Homo sapiens: one gene and its partner. The protein of the gene in region 1 purifies or fractionates together with the protein of each later gene. This does not show direct contact. Each region holds a gene or a part of one and is shown in the gene's direction. Other genes may lie near its edges.

The links. Proteins that work in one complex are often made in the same cells at the same time.
Region 2: the proteins of MANSC1 (region 1) and USP32 purify together in Homo sapiens (affinity purification with mass spectrometry; 2 studies listed by BioGRID and IntAct, with this or other methods). This does not show direct contact.

Annotation. Positions count from the first base shown.
Region 1 is NC_000012.12:12,329,743-12,333,242, reverse strand, and holds part of MANSC1 (MANSC domain-containing protein 1 isoform 1 precursor), read left to right. Parts: intron 1-2,284; coding exon 2,285-3,216; 3' UTR 3,217-3,500.
Region 2 is NC_000017.11:60,224,634-60,228,133, reverse strand, and holds part of USP32 (ubiquitin carboxyl-terminal hydrolase 32), read left to right. Parts: intron 1-1,902; coding exon 1,903-2,095; intron 2,096-3,500. UniProt on the Homo sapiens protein: Deubiquitinase that can remove conjugated ubiquitin from target proteins, such as RAB7A and LAMTOR1.

The DNA of each region.
Region 1 (3,500 bases):
AAATTCTGTCTCTACAAAAAATACAAAAATTAGCTGGGCATGGTGGCATGGCATTGTGGCCCCAGCTGCTCAAGAGGCTGAGGTGGGAGGATTGCTTGAACCCAGGAGGTTGAGGCTGCAGTGAGCTGTGTTTGTGCCACTGCACTCCAGCCTGGGTGACAGAGCAAGACCCTGTCTCAAAAATATATATATATATATTTTCAAATATATTTCATTTGACCCAAATTCTACTTTAGAGTAGAATACTATATCCTAGAGCAGATGTCCACCAACTTTTTCTGCCAAGGGCCAAATAGTATTTTAGGCTTTTCACACCAGTACTTTAGGTTTTGAAATACAGAAATTTGAATTTTGTATACCTTTCCTGTGTCACACAATTTTCTTTTGATTATTTTTCAGCCATTAAAAGAAATATAAAAACTGGCCAGGCATGGTGGCTCACCTCTATAATCCCAGCACTTTGGGAGACCGAAGGGGGTGGATCACCTGAGGTCAGGAGTTTGAAACCAGCTTGGCCAACATGGTGAAACCTCACCTCTACTAAAAATAGAACAATCACCCAGGTGTGGTGGCACGCGCCTGTAATCCCAGCTACTCAGGAGGCAGAGGTAGGAGAATCGCCTGAATCTGGAAGGCAGAGGTTGCAGTGAGTCGAGATCATACCACTGCACTCCAGCCTGGGCGACAGAGTGAGACTCTGTCTCAAAACAAATAAAAATTTTAAAAAACGTAAAAACCATTCTTAGCTTGCAAGTCATACAAAGACAGATGGCAGGCCAGATTTGTCCATCAGGCCGTAGTTTGCTGAGCCCTGTCCTAGATGGACGAATAAGTGACAGAGTGACAGTGCAAAGAACCTCTCAGAGGGGTAAGGCTTAGAGAGTAGTCACGAGATGGCATGAATCCGTAGCTGCCTCTGGATCCGTCTGTAGGAAAGAGGAGACTGAGGACCAGTTTGGAAACTGGCATGGAGGTGAATTGAGGAAGAAAAAGGAAAAGAGAGCAGGAGTGAGTGGACTGAGAAATGCCAGGACATTCCTCTGCTTCTTTCCTTGTGTTTTCTGCAGTTCTAATGTGAGATGGTTAGCCTAGCAGCAGAGTGATACATGGCAATTCACCTGGTCATTCCCTGCACTTGATTGCTTGAACAGGTCTTTCCAGTTTGAGCTGTGATAAATGGGGTGTGTGATCAGGAGAAAAATTCTAAGCTTCATGGAGCAGGAGCAGGATCTGGGGCTGGTTTCTCCTCAGCAGGCATCGGGACTGTATGGTTTTTCTGCCCTCTGTGTCTACAGTGTGGTCATCATGATTTCAAATATTGGTCCCATCATCCTCATGACCTATGACATTGGCTCCAAAATTCTAATCTTTGAGAGTCCAAATGAAATCTCCCAGATAGCCTCCCTCCTCTGCGCACAGTGCTGGAACGATATATCTCTGGTTTTTTGTTGTCGTTGTTGCTGTTCTGCTGCTGCTGTGGCCTCAGTGCTCAGAGCGGAGACCAGACCCTGCCTGGCCCCTCCTCCTCCTCCCTGTCAGAGACACACCACAGGGATTCTGCTCCCTCTCTCCTGCTCTATTGCCTCATTTCCCACAGCTTCCACATACCTTTCTTGCCTGCCTCATGCCCCCACTGAAATCTCTCCTGATGATTACTTGCTCCCCATTTGTCATCTCAGTCTTAGGTGGCATGTCTTGCAGAAGCCCACACCTTCCCCCGCATTCTCCCTGCCAACCTTTCCTGCTCAGGTCACCCTCCGGCCCACTTTTTTCCCTGGCCTTGGCCCCTTAGGAAGACGGAGAACCCTTTCCATCTTTGTAAGCCTCTTGCTGCCCTGCTGAGCCCCTCCGGCTTCTCTGCTGTGCACCTCCCACCTTTTCCTTAATTTGCCTGGTCCTCCTCCACACATTTCTCTTCTCTTCTGTCCTATCATGCTAGAAATAAACCACAGCATCTGGTAGAGAGGCGGCGTTATCAGATTCTCATTTAGCAATTTGTGTTTTTCCATTTTGCACACATTTCAATGAAATGTCAAGTATCAACAGTTTGGAGATTTTTTTGTTTAAGAGACAGGATCTCCCTATGTTGTCCAGGCTGGTCTCCAACTCCTGGCCTCAAACCATCCTCCTGCCTTAGCCTCCCAAAGTGCTGGGATTATAGGCGTGAGCCACCATGGCCAACCAGTTTAGGGATCTTTTGAACAAGCTGATATGTTTGTATTTTTTTAACCTACCGTAGCATGGAGTTACATAAGCCTTCCTTTTATTTTCCATACATTTTCAGATTTTCCATCTTTGACCAGAAATTTGCCAAGCCAAGAGTTACCCCAGGAAGATTCTCTCTTACATGGCCAATTTTCACAAGCAGTCACTCCCCTAGCCCATCATCACACAGATTATTCAAAGCCCACCGATATCTCATGGAGAGACACACTTTCTCAGAAGTTTGGATCCTCAGATCACTTGGAGAAACTATTTAAGATGGATGAAGCAAGTGCCCAGCTCCTTGCTTATAAGGAAAAAGGCCATTCTCAGAGTTCACAATTTTCCTCTGATCAAGAAATAGCTCATCTGCTGCCTGAAAATGTGAGTGCGCTCCCAGCTACGGTGGCAGTTGCTTCTCCACATACCACCTCGGCTACTCCAAAGCCCGCCACCCTTCTACCCACCAATGCTTCAGTGACACCTTCTGGGACTTCCCAGCCACAGCTGGCCACCACAGCTCCACCTGTAACCACTGTCACTTCTCAGCCTCCCACGACCCTCATTTCTACAGTTTTTACACGGGCTGCGGCTACACTCCAAGCAATGGCTACAACAGCAGTTCTGACTACCACCTTTCAGGCACCTACGGACTCGAAAGGCAGCTTAGAAACCATACCGTTTACAGAAATCTCCAACCTAACTTTGAACACAGGGAATGTGTATAACCCTACTGCACTTTCTATGTCAAATGTGGAGTCTTCCACTATGAATAAAACTGCTTCCTGGGAAGGTAGGGAGGCCAGTCCAGGCAGTTCCTCCCAGGGCAGTGTTCCAGAAAATCAGTACGGCCTTCCATTTGAAAAATGGCTTCTTATCGGGTCCCTGCTCTTTGGTGTCCTGTTCCTGGTGATAGGCCTCGTCCTCCTGGGTAGAATCCTCTCGGAATCACTCCGCAGGAAACGTTACTCAAGACTGGATTATTTGATCAATGGGATCTATGTGGACATCTAAGGATGGAACTCGGTGTCTCTTAATTCATTTAGTAACCAGAAGCCCAAATGCAATGAGTTTCTGCTGACTTGCTAGTCTTAGCAGGAGGTTGTATTTTGAAGACAGGAAAATGCCCCCTTCTGCTTTCCTTTTTTTTTTTTGGAGACAGAGTCTTGCTTTGTTGCCCAGGCTGGAGTGCAGTAGCACGATCTCGGCTCTCACCGCAACCTCCGTCTCCTGGGTTCAAGCGATTCTCCTGCCTCAGCCTCCTAAGTATCTGGGATTACAGGCATGTGCCACCACAC
Region 2 (3,500 bases), on another chromosome or scaffold:
AGAATCATTTGAAGCTAGAGGCGGAGGTTGCTGTGAGCCGAGACTGCACCACTGACCTCCAGCCTGGGCGACAGAGCTTGACTCTGTCTCAAAAAAAAAAAAAGAATTTTGACTACTTTGGTGAACCATCTAAATTTTAAAAATTGATGGTCCAAAATTCATATGTAATATAGATTCCTACTTCTTAATCATTTTTTTAAACTATGGTCACCATTTTTCTCATGTAATGCCATACAGTTAACTTACATAAATAATTATGCCATTTTTACTTAAAATTTAAAAAAATTTTTTGGCTACTAAAGTGAAGCAGTGGTAACAGACAAGGAACAAAGAAATTTATAACTGTTTGTGATTAATTAGTTATTTAATCATATTTTCAAAGGAAACTTTATATCACTACTTTAAGTAGAAAACTTATGTCCACTGGGCACAGTGGCTCACGCCTTTAATCCTAGCCCTTTGGGAGGCCCAGGCAGGAGTATTGCTTGAGGCCGGGAGTTCAAGACTGACCTAGCCAACATAGCGAGACCCTGTCTCAAAAAAAAAAAAAAGAAAAGAAAAACTGAATGGGCATGGTGGCTCACGCCTGTAATTCCAGCACTTTGGGAGGCCCAGGCGGGCAGATAACCTGAGGTCAGGAATTCAAGACCAGCCTGGCCAGTATGGTGAAACCCTATCTCTATGAAAACTACAAAAATTATCTGGGCTTGGTGGCATGCACCTGTAATTCCAGTTACTCGGGAGGCTGAGGCAGGAGAATCTCCTGAACCTGGGAGGTGGAGGTTGCAGTGACCCGAGATCACGCCACTGCACTCTAGCCTGGGTGACAGAGTAAGACTCCGTCTCAAAAAAAAAAAAAAAAGAAAAAAAGAAAAGAAAACTAGTGTCGCTTGCCAGAAATAGAAGGCAATAATATTATTAAATTCCAGCTAATAGTGTTGCCTTTTGAAGACTCTGCTATTTAGGATTGTTCTCTCTTTGTTAAAAAGAGAAATAGAGAAAATATGAAATGTTAGATTAGCATATTAGCACTATATAAACAATACAATGTTTGGTGAAAGAAAAAAATATGATTTTTTTTTTTTTTTTTTTTTTTGAGACAGAGTCTCACTCTGTTGCCTAGGCTGGAGTACAGTGGCGCAATCTCAGCTTACTGCAACCTCCCGGGTTCAAGTGATTCTCTTGCCTCAGCCTCCCGAGTAGCTGGGATTACAGGAGCCCTCCACCACCCCCAGCTAATTTTTGTATTTTTAGTAGAGATGGGATTTCACCATTTTGGCCTCCTGACCTCAAGTGATCCATCTGCCTCGGTCTCCCAAAGTGCTGGGATTAAAGGTGTGTTCAGTTATTGTAGAAGGTCACATAGGTATAAGTCATAGCATTGCCCTTCACTCTATGTACATACACCACTCATCTTTTACATATATACATATTTTTCAGTCATAAGAACTAAAACACAGTTATTGCTAAATGATGGAATCTGAGTACATGTGATATTTTCTTCATGTTTTCTATATTTTCTACATTGACCATGTAATCTTTAATAATAAAAAAATTATATACATTCATGTACTATGGGAAATAAGGAAGAAAAGAAAAAAATTTAAGCTTTATTTACTTTTAATGTTAAAAAAATGGCTGCCAACAGAATAGAGTGTAAATTACTTTATGTGGCACAAAATCCTTCACAGTCTGTTTTGTCTACCTTGCCAATTTTATCTATATACATACTTTTCCTCCTGAAAGAGATTAAAATATAGCTATGTATTAGAATGTTTTTAAATGTCTGTGGCCAACCACAGGAGACTTAAAAAAATAGATAATTGTGAGATTTGTTTCTGAAGACTACATAGTTGTCAGATTATAAACTTTGCTTCTTATTCTCTGATTTCCTGATTTTAGGATGCCAACCCTGTGGTAATTGAGCCATCATCTGTTTTGAATGGAGGAAAATACTCATTTGGAACTGCAGCCCATCCTATGGAGCAGGTCGAAGATAGAATTGGAAGCAGCCTCAGTTACGTGAATACTACAGAAGAGAAATTTTCAGACAACATTTCTACTGCATCTGAAGCCTCAGAAACTGCTGGCAGCGGTAAATATGACCTATTCCCCTGAGGTTTATTGGTTTATTCCCCCTGGATAGGTCTTTCTTTTCTTTTCTTTTTTTTTTTTTTTTTTGAGACTGAGTTTCACATTTTGCCCAGGCTGGAGCGCAGTGGCGCGATCTCTGCTCACTGCAACCTCCACCTTCTGGGTTCAAGCGATTGTCCTGCCTCAGCCTCCTGAGTAGCTGCGATTACAGGCACCCGCCACCACGCCTGGCTAATTTTTGTATTTTTTTAGTAGAGATGGGGTTTCACTATGTTGGCCAGGCTGGTCTTGAACTCCCAACCTCGTGATCTGCCTGCCTCGGCCTCCCAAAGTGCTGGGATTACAGGCGTGAGCCACCATGCCTGGCCTCCCCATGGATAGTTATTAAGGCAGTCTAATTTGACAGAGGCTGTAGTGAATATGGTAATAGGAGATCAGGCTTCCATTAACAGAAATAAGTTTTGAATGAAATGGTCAATTGTAAAATTCTTGAATATATTAGTATTTTTACAAAGAAAACCTCTTTTCCATATTATACTTCATTAAATCTCTCAATATGGAAATATTTTCACTATTTTCTTTTGAGACAGGATCTCGCTCTGTCACCCAGGCTGGAGTACAGTGGCATAATCACGGCTTACTGCAGCCTCTGCCTCCTGGCCCCAAGCAATTCTCCCACCTCAGCCTCCTAAGAAGCTGGGACTACAGGCACGCGCCACCATGCCCAGCCATTTTTTGTGTGTTTTTATTTTAGGGATAGGGTTTTGCCATGTTGCCCAGGCTGGTCTCAAACTCCCAGGCTCAAGCAGTCCTCTGGCCTCAGCCTCTCAAAGTGCTGGGATTACAGGCATGAGCCATCACATGCGGCTATTTTCACTATTTTCATCAATCAAGCCCCATCTTTCCCTATTGCTATTAAATTATTTAGTCAGTAAATTTAAATTTTCAAAGATAGTCATCTCCAGGACTCTCTCTAGCCATAAACATAATTAAATTAAATGCACCCCACATCAGATTCTATGTATATTTCAGGCCAAAATATGGAGATTATTTTGTTAAAATACTGAGAAAGAATTCAGATGCCTCCCATAATTCCCTTTAGGCCTTGGTACTTACCTAAAACTTCATGTTTCCACACCTACAAGGAAGATGCTGTGGTATTTCTATGGCCCAGCTGAATTGAGTTGATTGCTGTTATTCTGGTACAGTAGCAGAACCCTCAATCTTACCCTATTGTTATTTATTTATTTACTTAAAGAGACAGGGTGTCACTCTGTTGCCCAGGCTGTAGTGCAATGGCATGATCATAGCTCACTGTAACCTCCAGTTCCTGGGCTCAAATGATCCTCCTGTCTTAGCCTACCTGGTAGCTGGGACTACAGGTGTACACTGCCACACACAGCTAA